2 separate regions of the Homo sapiens genome follow, and region 2 is linked to region 1. The links come from fine-mapping of genetic effects on gene expression. Tissue or cell type: whole blood. Region 1 holds a variant in brackets; the other region holds the start of a gene. All regions are shown on one strand. Distances are between the middles of the regions.

Region 1 (5,000 bases):
TGTGGTGATCCCATTGGTTAACTCCTACACTTGTCCCTGAGGCCAGTGGAGCCCAGAGAAAGAGCAGAGAAATACCTTCCCACATGTAGCGTCTAAGTGATAGTGCCAGGCCCAGAACACAGATCTTCTCTTCGGCTGGGCACTGCCAATTCCCTTCCACAGTGCCACCTCTGCCCTAAGTAACAGAGTTAATTATGCATAGTCCCTCCCAGGCGTGCCTTGTCCAGGCCTATGTTGATTAATCCGTTGGCTTCTCTGCCACATAGGAGACCAGTCGGGGGATGAAAACATCACTCAGATGCTCAAGCGAGCTCATGACTGCCGGAAGACAGCTGAGAACGCTGCCAAGGCCCTGCTCATGAAGCTGGACGGCAGCTGTGGGGGAGCCTTTGCCGTGGCCGGCTGCAGCGTGCAGCCCTGGGAGAGCCTTTCCTCCAACAGCCACACCAGGTAATGCTCAGCCTTCTGCTCTGGGGTGGGCGTGTGTCCACATGGCATCTGTTCACTGGACTTGGTGTGCAGTGACCCAGCTCTTGGGGACTGTGTGGCTTGGGAAAAGGCAGACATGGCTTCTGGCATGCAGCCTGCTCCATCCAAAAAGGAGTCAGAAGATCAGAACAGAAGAGCTAGAAAGTGGCCCTCTCACTTTGCCAATGTGGAAACTGCAGTCGAGATTGGAGAGATTTGCTGTGGAAAGTGGTAGAGATGGAATGCAAACCTACCTTTCTGTCAGATCCATTTTCTCTGCATTGTTCTGTTCTCCATTTCTTTATAAGTCTTCATTTCCAGGAAGCACTTAGGGTAGCCAAGAGCCGTTTGCTCCAAATGGTCCCTCTGGTCCCAAGGCCCAGCCCAGCTCATCCTAGTTCCAGACATCACTCTCCTGTCTTCTTGTGCCTCCATCGTCTATAAGCTCTTCTCAGGCAAGAGCCTCTCCTCTCATCTCTTTTGCCTCATGGAATGATGCCACATTCACAGCACATGCTTACAGGCACTCAGTCATGAACCTGAGGTCAAGTTCACTGTCTGTGAATCTAGGAAATTAAAGTGGGTGCTTGAAAAAGGAAGCTAGGAAGAGAGCGGCGAAGACCTTGCAGAGCATAATTTGCTGAAGTCATTTCATTCTTTGGATGGGAGTGGAGAGTCAGAACAAAACCCTTTCTACTTACCTTCTCATTTCTTGCCACCAAAGCCCTAAAAACACGAATGCCTTCCCTTTATTTACCAGTCCTCAGTTTAGAAGACACTTTGTTAGAGATTCTTACTTAATTGCCAAATCGTGAAAGACTTGGAAGGGTAACTTACTCCATTTTCACAGGTTAGGAAACCTTGGCTCAGAGATAATGTCAGTGACCTGCCTGGTGATAAGAGGGAAACCTGGATGGGAACCCGGGATCTTAGCATCGAGCATATTGTTCTTCCCACATTGGATCTCATGACATAACAAAACAGTGTCTACTTGCAGACTAAGTGACCAGAACTGCATAAAGATAGATTGACTGTTGAGAGCCAGAGGAGAAATACTGATGCTTTCTTGGTGCTGGAAAGCAACTTAATGTTCCCCTCTCTCTTTCTCCCCTGGTGGGACCCGCCATCTACCTTAGCGCTTCCATTTACCTCTACTGGCCCAGGTGTCCCAGGAGAGGGAACATGCCCAGTAATGCACTCAGCCAGGTGCCCACAAACAAAAGGGACTTGATTCTTCTTTACTTCAGCAACAATTGTCTCATTCAGTGAAGCACAGATTATAATTTTTTTCATAAAACCATATTCTACTGTGTAAACACAGAAAGCAGATGCTCTTCTTAATGACTCTTCCAGATGTGTATAATCTATAATTTGTGTGTTTATTTAGTATAGAAATGTAGTTCTCATGTTGTCAGTGATGCTGTGTTGTTTTATTAGTGAACATAAGAGTTTGCTTGACAGGAAATGTGTGCTGTTTCAGTAGCTTATGAGGTTTGTGCTA[C/T]GGATCATTTGCTCAAACCTCCCTACCCCCAAAAAGAATGTTGTGGTTTTATTCTGAATCAGAGACAAATTTAGAACCAGTCAGGAGGGAGAACAATTTTATCACCATCTATTTAGCTTTTGAATATTTGTTAGAAGTACTTGAACTTACAGGTTAGCCTTGATTTTGAGACTGTTTTCTTAGAGAAATTTAATTTGGGATCCTGTTTTTCTGCAGATTGAGATAAATTCAAAACACAGAGTCATTGTTTCCAAGGATAACCTCACCAAAGAATGGTTCTTAAATTAATTTCAGTCTCAAATGGATCTTCCCATCAAAGTACAGAGGTCTTTAGCTCCAATGTCACCCAATTCTCCTTAAAAAATCACTTTTACCCTCCCGCCCAAATCAGAGCAGCTCCGAGGATGGAAGAACCACACACGAGGCATTCATTTGTCACTCCACATTCTTAGAACCTGATGCAATTAGACTGCTTTATGTTAAACGTGGGTTTAGAATAAAGTCCCAAAGCACCAGACCCCTTTCATAATTATGATAATTATAGTAATTTTGTTTGTAAATCTTGCCATTCTGGCTCAGACATTCCCCCTTGTCAAGTTTATGAAAATAAAGAAAAGGATCTTTCTGAGTTGGAGCTTTATGTGGCCCAGCAAATCTCCTTTCCCCCCGCTGTAACCACCCAGCTTCAAGAGGTCTAATCAGAGTGTCCATCAACTGCCCCTCAAGGGTTCAGGAAAGAAACGCTGAGTATTGTGCCTCCAGCGGCATTTCTGGCAGCCCATAGGCAGCTCCTAACGACAGGAGGGTTAATGGTTTTAGAGAGGAGCAGCAGAGGGGTAGTTAACCAGCAAGGAGAATAAAAGTGATAGCCAACCCTCAGTTGACTGTTGGCAGGTGCCCAGGGTCGGTGCCACTTCATTTTTGAAAAATATAGCCATGGCCTCATCAGAAAGTATAATAGTCTTATGGACAGAGTGACTAGGTTGATTGCCTGGATGGCTTTATCAACATATCATGACAAAGAGGCACAAGGACTAAAATGTTAGGAAGTGGAAATAGGAATCCTTGGTCAAGCCCACCCTCTGTGGCAGGCCTCACAGTTCAGCTCCTTCTGTGCAGCGTAGTCATCGATCTCAATCCACAAAGGAACTGTGGCCAAGACAGGATCGGCCACAGCAAGTCTGTACTCTCAGAGACTGAAATTGAGTCCCTTGTCTCAGCACCAGGTGGGGACCCTGGAGAGCTGTGAGAATGGTGGTTGCAGCCTTGCCGTGAGCCTCTAGGTACCTCCAGGTAGCCAGGGTGCTGCCTGTGTGGCCACTCACTCTGGGGTGTAATCCCCAAGTTGGACTGGACAGCAGCAGAGCTCAAGAGATGCCTAGCTCTCACTCTTTGAACTAGTCTGGATTAAGGTAAAGTTTCATTGGGGCAGAAAAAATGGTTGAGGAGAGTGAAATCATGTCCATTGAAAGGGTGAATTTTTTGAAACAGCCACCTAGTTAGAACAGGCATCAGTAAGCTTCAGGGAATGAGAGTCAGACTAGATCTGGCTGAAACAGTCATCTTTACTGAGGAGAGGTGCTTTTCCATCTGTGTGTCAGGAGAGTCTATCCAAAGTCCTTGAGACAAACGCTTACTGGTGTTAGTGAGCTCTAGAGACCAGCCCCGACACATCCTTGACATGACAGCATTATGATCAGTCCTCCTGCTCAAATGTCCTCATCACTTACCTTTTAGGTTCTATGAGAACAAGGTATAGACATGGAATGCTTTTTATGGTTTTTTTTCTAGTGAGATCTAACTTCTTGATTTCAAAAGAACTGTATGTTTGTTGTAAAACTAAGCAATTAAAATGCCAGCATTGCAAAATGCATAGGATGGTAAAGTTCTCCATTCTAGGACTCTCACTGGAAAGGACATTGGACTGACCCCACTCATTCAGATAAATTTCAAATGCTCAGCAAAACAGATGCCCACCCCCAGGGCACTTTCCTTCTAAAAATGAGCTGCTAGGCCGGGCGCAGTGACTCACACCTGTAATCCCAGCACTTTGGGAGGCTGAGGCGGGCAGATCATGAGGTCAGGAGTTTGAGACCACCCTGGACAACATAGTGAAATCCTGTTGCTATTAAAAATACAAAATTTAGCCAGGCATGGTGGTACATGCCTGTAGTCCCAGCTACTCAGGAGGCTGAGGCAGGAGAATTGCTTGAACCCAGGAGGCGGAGGCTGTGGTGAGCCAAATCATGCTATTGCACTCCAGTGTGGGCAACAGAGTGAGACTCTGTCTCAAACAAACAAACAAACAAACAAACAAAAAGAGCTGCTCCTTGATGGAAATGAGATCTCAGCTAGGGCCAGGTAAGATGTTGATGAAAACTTCAGGAAAATGTCATCACGGATTTTCAAGGCAAAAGAAATGAAATGTCCTTCTAGCCTTCCACCAAGGCAAGCTGAGGAGGCTATGAAAAATGAATTTTTCTTCTAATGAGCAGGCTGGGGGACTGTCTTGAGGACAGAGGTGGGGCATGGTGGAGAGGGATAGAAGAGAGGATATTTGACGTCGATAGCTGGTTTGAACAGCTTCTCCTATAGTGGACAGGGTAGGTGGAGAGTGGGTCGGCCCGAACCGTCCCGAACCAGCCAGCCCCGCATTCCCACCAGGCTACAGGCCTGCTGTGTATGCTTTGTGCTGGAAGAGCTGCTGGCAATGAACAGATGCAGAGGAAAGCCAGCGTGACGGGAGCTCCAGCAGAGCATCACGGAAAGGAGAAACCCACACATCCTAGACTAGCTCCTCAAGAAGCCAGAGCAAGACACACATGTGTGGCGAGGGTTTTTGTCATTAGCCTTCCCCCACAGTCGCTCTCAGAGAACACAGACAGGCTCCTGTTCTGGAGAGGAGGAATAATGCAGCCACAGAAAGTGATTGATTCCCCCTTGACAACTGAGATCATCCAGCATTCCAAGCTGGGAGAATTAATGGATGACTTAACCCTTGCCCAGCAGCCAGCAGCAGGCCCTTGGGAGA
Region 2 (5,000 bases), 430 kb before region 1:
TCTTATGATTGTAAATTCCACCTTTAAAGTTTTTTTCCCCCTCTCACAGCTTGATGTAAGTGGTTAAAAGTAGCCATGCTGCAGCCTGAATGCTTTACTGCTTAGATATTTCTTTGGCCAGATACCCCAGTTTCTCTCTCTCAAGTTCAGCCTTCCAGAAAGCCCTCAGGCATAGAACAGTTCAGCTAAGTTCTTTGCCAATTTATAACAAGGATGGTCTTTACTCCATTTTCTTGTACCTTGTTCCTCAGTTCCATCTGAGACCTTGTCAGAATGGCCTTTACTGTCCATAGTTCCATCAGCATTCTGATTATGACCATTTAACCAATTTCTAAGGAGTTCCAAACTTTCCCTGTTCTTCCTGTCTTCTCAGCCCTCACTAGAACCTAGGCTTTTTCTAGACTGCTGCTTCATTCTTGTAGCCTCTGCTCATTATCCAGTTTCAAAGCTGCTTCTCCATTTTCAGGTATTCGTTTTCGTTAACACCCCACTCCCGGTACTAATTTCTGGTCTTGTCAATTTTCTGTTGCTTAGAACAGACTACCTGAAACTAGGGTGATTTATAAAGAAATGAATTTATTTCTTACAGTTCTGGAGAATGAAAAGTCCAAGGTCAATGGGCCACCCTGCTGGTGGGGACTCTGTGCAGAGTCCCAAAACAGTGCAGGGCATCACATGGCAAGGGGGCTGAGCCTGCTAACTCAGGTCTCTCCTTCTCTTCTTATAAAGTCACTAGTCCCACTCCCATGATAACCCATTAACTCATTAACTCATGAATCTATGATTTTAGTGCCCTGAAATACTGGGAACTTAGAGAATAATAAAGAAGTAAAGTAGGAATAGGTAGATGGGGTGGAGAGGAGGAGAAAGAGAGCAGAGATTCCTTCCTTCTGACCTAGCAGACATTCCCAAGACATATGGACTTGTTCCAGTTATATATTGCTGCATAACAAATCACCTCAAAACTTAATGGCTTAAAACAACAATTTTTAATTATTATCTTCACAGCTCTGGGGGTTGGTTAGCCAGTTTTGCTCAGGGTCTCCAATGCAGTTGCAGCATCTAGAGCTAGCATCATCTCTCACTCATGTCTGGCACCTAGTCTGGGAAGATTCTAAGATCCAGGGCTAGAACAGCTGTAGCTCTTTGGTCATCTCCTTTTTTCTTTACATGGTCTTTCTGCATGGTTTCTCCAGCTTCAGGGTAGCCAAACTTCTTTTCAGGCAGCTCAAGGCTTCAAAGGTAAGTGTCCCAAGGGAGAGAGCCAAGTGCAATCTGCATTGCCTTTTCTAACCTAGTCTCAGAAGTCAAGGCAGTCACAAGTCCAATCCAGGTTTAGGGGAAGCAACAGACTCCACCTCTTGATGAGGGGTGCACCAAAGAATCTGTGGACATATTTTAAAACCACCAGAGAACTTCACACGCCTCTCTGGCAGAAAATCCAGGACAGAATAATGAGTCATTCACGAAACCACAAATTGCTTCACTGTGGTTTCCCTTTGGCTATGGGGGAATAGTGCAGTGTTTAAAGGCTCCTGCTCTGGAGTTAGGCTGCCCGGGCTTGCCTCTGCCCTAACACTTACTAAACCTGGAACCTTGAGCAGGTCTTGGTACCTCAGTTTTCTTACCTGTAAATTGGGAACAATGAGAGCTAACAGTTGTTGAGCACTTACTAGGTGTCAGACATTGTCCTAACTGCATTATGTCTGCTCTCCTTTTATATGTAAGATAACTCTATGAGGTACTTATCTATTAATACTTCCTAAGTCGTAGGATTGATAATAAAAGAGGCATCTTCCAGGTCTGTAGTGTGGATCAAATGAGACCATCTATTATGTTCGCTCTTGGCATTATTAAAGCTGTTGGGGGAAATTCTAGTGATGCCTGGCCAGTAGAGTGAGCCGTTTCCAGAAATTGACCCAACGTACACAATGCCACACAGCGTGCAGACTCTTCCCAGTACAGAGTGGGAGCCAAGATGAGGGCTGCGAGGGCCAGGTTTCTTGACAGGTGTCAAAATTTCATAAAAAGGCCAGTCATTCCGGTTCTCATTGGTGGCTATGGGTACAGAACCCGGAACAATCCTGGAGAGTGGGATTACAAGCACCGTTTTGAGTTTGCAGAAGGAGAGTGTTTATATAGCTTCTCTGGAAAAGGAAGCCATGACTCCGGGCGGTCGGAGAAGGTCTGCCGGGAGTACACCTGCCCTCTGCCTGAAGCGTCCCCAAGTGTCCCGGGCCCGCGTCGTTGCCGGATGCACAATGCTGACACCCTTCCCGGGGGCTTCCAGTGTATTCTGCCTCCTCTTGTGTTCCCGTTGCCACCCTTAGCTCCCTGACTCTTCCAGCCACCTTCCCCTCCTCCCTCTTCCCTGAGGTGCCTCCTCGGGCGATTCCAGAGCGCCCATCTTCCCAGTCCGGGCAAAACCCGGAGAGGTGGAATCCCTCGCCCGGAGCGCCCCGGCGGCCACTGGGCATGCTCCGTTGTCAGGCAAGTTCGGGGCTGCAGGCAGCTTGCGCGCCGCGCGGATTCCAGCTGCGGTCGCGCGTACTCCTCCTCCCAAGTAGGGAGCGGGCGCATGATGGCGGCCGCGGCGGCAGCGGCTGCGGGGAGCTCCAGCAGCGGCGGCGGCGGCGGCGGCAGCGGCAGCAGCAGCAGCAGCAGCGACACGTCCAGCACCGGCGAGGAGGAGAGGATGCGGCGCCTCTTCCAGACGTGCGACGGCGACGGGGACGGATACATCAGCAGGTACGCGGGGAGGTACGAGGAAACCGACAGGAGCGAGATCAGTCCCTCCGCGCGCCCTTGACCCCTGCTCTGCCCCCTCGCCCCAACTTGCGGCAAGTTGCTCAGAAGCTCGCGGGAAAAGTTGGCCGCGACTCCGAGAGCGCGTAGCCGGCTCGGCCACGAAGGCCGAGGGGACTGCTCTGTTCGCCTTGCGGGGGTGCCAGTTGGTCCAACTTTTCCCAGCGCTGTCTTTGTCTAGGCGTTGGGAGACATCTCCTTAGGATGCGCACTCTTCCGGGGGCTTGGAGTGTTCTTCCCTGTGGGAAAAGGAGTTCTGGCCGCTTGTCCCAGGTAGGAGGGGCTGCCCCACAGCCTCGGGGTCCTGGGCATCAAGATGCCGCAGCACGGGGCAGCGATCTGCCCGGCGGCTTGGTGGACACCCCAGGGCCGCACCGGGAGGAGATGAGCTAAGCGACAGCCTCGGACAGGGAAATAACCTGTGAAGAAACTTTCTTGTGCCGCAGAACCCATGAATTCCAAACTTCAGAGCCCAAAGAATGGGTATCGTTTGCCACCCAGTATTGATTTAAACGCAGTAGCCTGAGAGGAACGAAGCGCTCAGGAGCAAACTAGGGCTAGACCCGACTCCTACCCGGCTCTGTGCGCTGACCAGGTGAGCTTCGGCGTGGCTCCGGGCGCCTCCGCGCCTCCACTCACAAACAAACTTTGGGGTGTTTGCTTCGGATCCCCCGCACTTCCTACAGAGGCGGTATTTAAGCTTCCTGCCTCCCGGCTTGGCCAAATAATTACTTCTGCCCAAATTTGTGTCACTTAGACTCTTGTGGTGAAGAAGGCAATCGCAACATTTTCTGGTATGCTTCTATTGAATGGTTGACACCGGCCATTGAAGACTTGGTATCCGTGGAAATTTGAATTGCCTTGGATGAAGGAGCAGCCTAAGTTGTGCATTACATGTTTCTTTAGTCTATGTCTTGGTGATGCTAAAGATCGTTTCTGAAAATCCGGGGCTGCTTCCTGATTGTCCCTGCCTACCTAAAAAAAAAAAAAAGAAAGCAAAGTGCGGAATTTTTCCCTTAAAATAAAAAAAATTATTTATTTGGGACTCAACGCAATTTTGATCATTCTTAGGTGAATTTTTATTACTTTGCTAAAGTTTTACTGAGAAACATTAGGAAGATATCAGAAAACTTGATGGAGTAATTCTGTTCGGAAATGAAAATAATATGTAATTCTGATTGACTCCATGCAAATTTCTATCTGGAAGTCTCGTTATTTTGGTTCTGGGAGTAAAAGAAATTTCATTATATAGTTTTCCTTTTTGTTGTTTTCCTACTTGAAAGGTTATTATCTCATTTGCAATAATAAAGGCAAACTCCAACTTTGGATACAATTTTTTTTTTTTTTAGACAGAATCTCGCTCTATCACCCAGGCTGGAGTACAGTGGCGTGGTCTTGGCTCACTGCAACCTCCGCCTCCTGGTTCAAGAGATTCTCCTGCCTCAGCTTCCCGAGTAGCTGGGATTACAGGTGCCCACTACCACTCCCGGCTAATTTTCGTATTTTTAGTAGAGAAGGGGCTTCACAATTTGGCCAGGCTGGTCTCGAATTCCTGACCCTAAGTGATCCGCCCGCCTCGGCCTTAGGAAGCGCTGAGATTACAGGCCTGAGCCACCGCTCCCCGCATGGATGCAAAAAAGTTTAATTTCACACGGGCAAGAGTGCATACAGAAAACTAGCAGCGTGCTATCCTTTTCTAATTTGGCCTATTAATATATTGCTTTATCTGAACTACACTTTCTATATAAATGCTCACATTATTTTCGGTGATTCTACCCGGGAGGATAATGAATTCTGTAAGCGTAATTTGAGTAAAGTGGGTGGTGATAAAGAAGCCGTTTTGGATTAGAGTAGAAACTGGCTGGGGCAAAAGTGGAAAAAGTTGTTAACATTCCTTGAGCTGCATTACTTTAATGTGTCTGCTTAAAAGTTTCAAGGTATGTGTAGTAATGAACCCTAAATCATAACTTTAACTGTGGGTGGAGCTGCCCTGAAAATTATGCTGTGGCAGAATTGCCATGTAGGAGAAGTTTAGGGATGGCAATCTAGGGCAACAAGGAACTTGTCTGGAAGTGTGTTTACCTGGTAAGCACAGTTTTACCTGGAATTTACGTTTATGTGGTAAGACTTGGGGAATGGGGCTAATGAAGGTAAGGGGCATTAAATGATTCCCTCTCTGAAGCCACTTTTCTGTG

What was found. PIP is the estimated chance that this variant, and not a neighbour inherited with it, causes the effect.
Region 2: it holds the start of MCC, and the variant in region 1 is fine-mapped to the expression of MCC in whole blood (TOPMed, PIP above 0.99). The same link has a PIP of 0.9 or more in blood mononuclear cells.

Annotation. Positions count from the first base shown.
Region 1 is chr5:113,059,434-113,064,433 of GRCh38, reverse strand. MCC (MCC regulator of Wnt signaling pathway) reads left to right here. Exons shown (of 19, transcript NM_001085377.2): 14 at 267-450. Among named protein-coding and RNA genes, the nearest start is that of DCP2, 85 kb to the right of the region's middle. The variant C/T (reference allele first, on the strand shown) is at 1,970.
Region 2 is chr5:113,485,993-113,490,992 of GRCh38, reverse strand. MCC (MCC regulator of Wnt signaling pathway) reads left to right here and starts at 2,540. Exons shown (of 19, transcript NM_001085377.2): 1 at 2,540-2,748. The coding sequence starts at 2,579. RefSeq lists an enhancer at 2,347-2,641.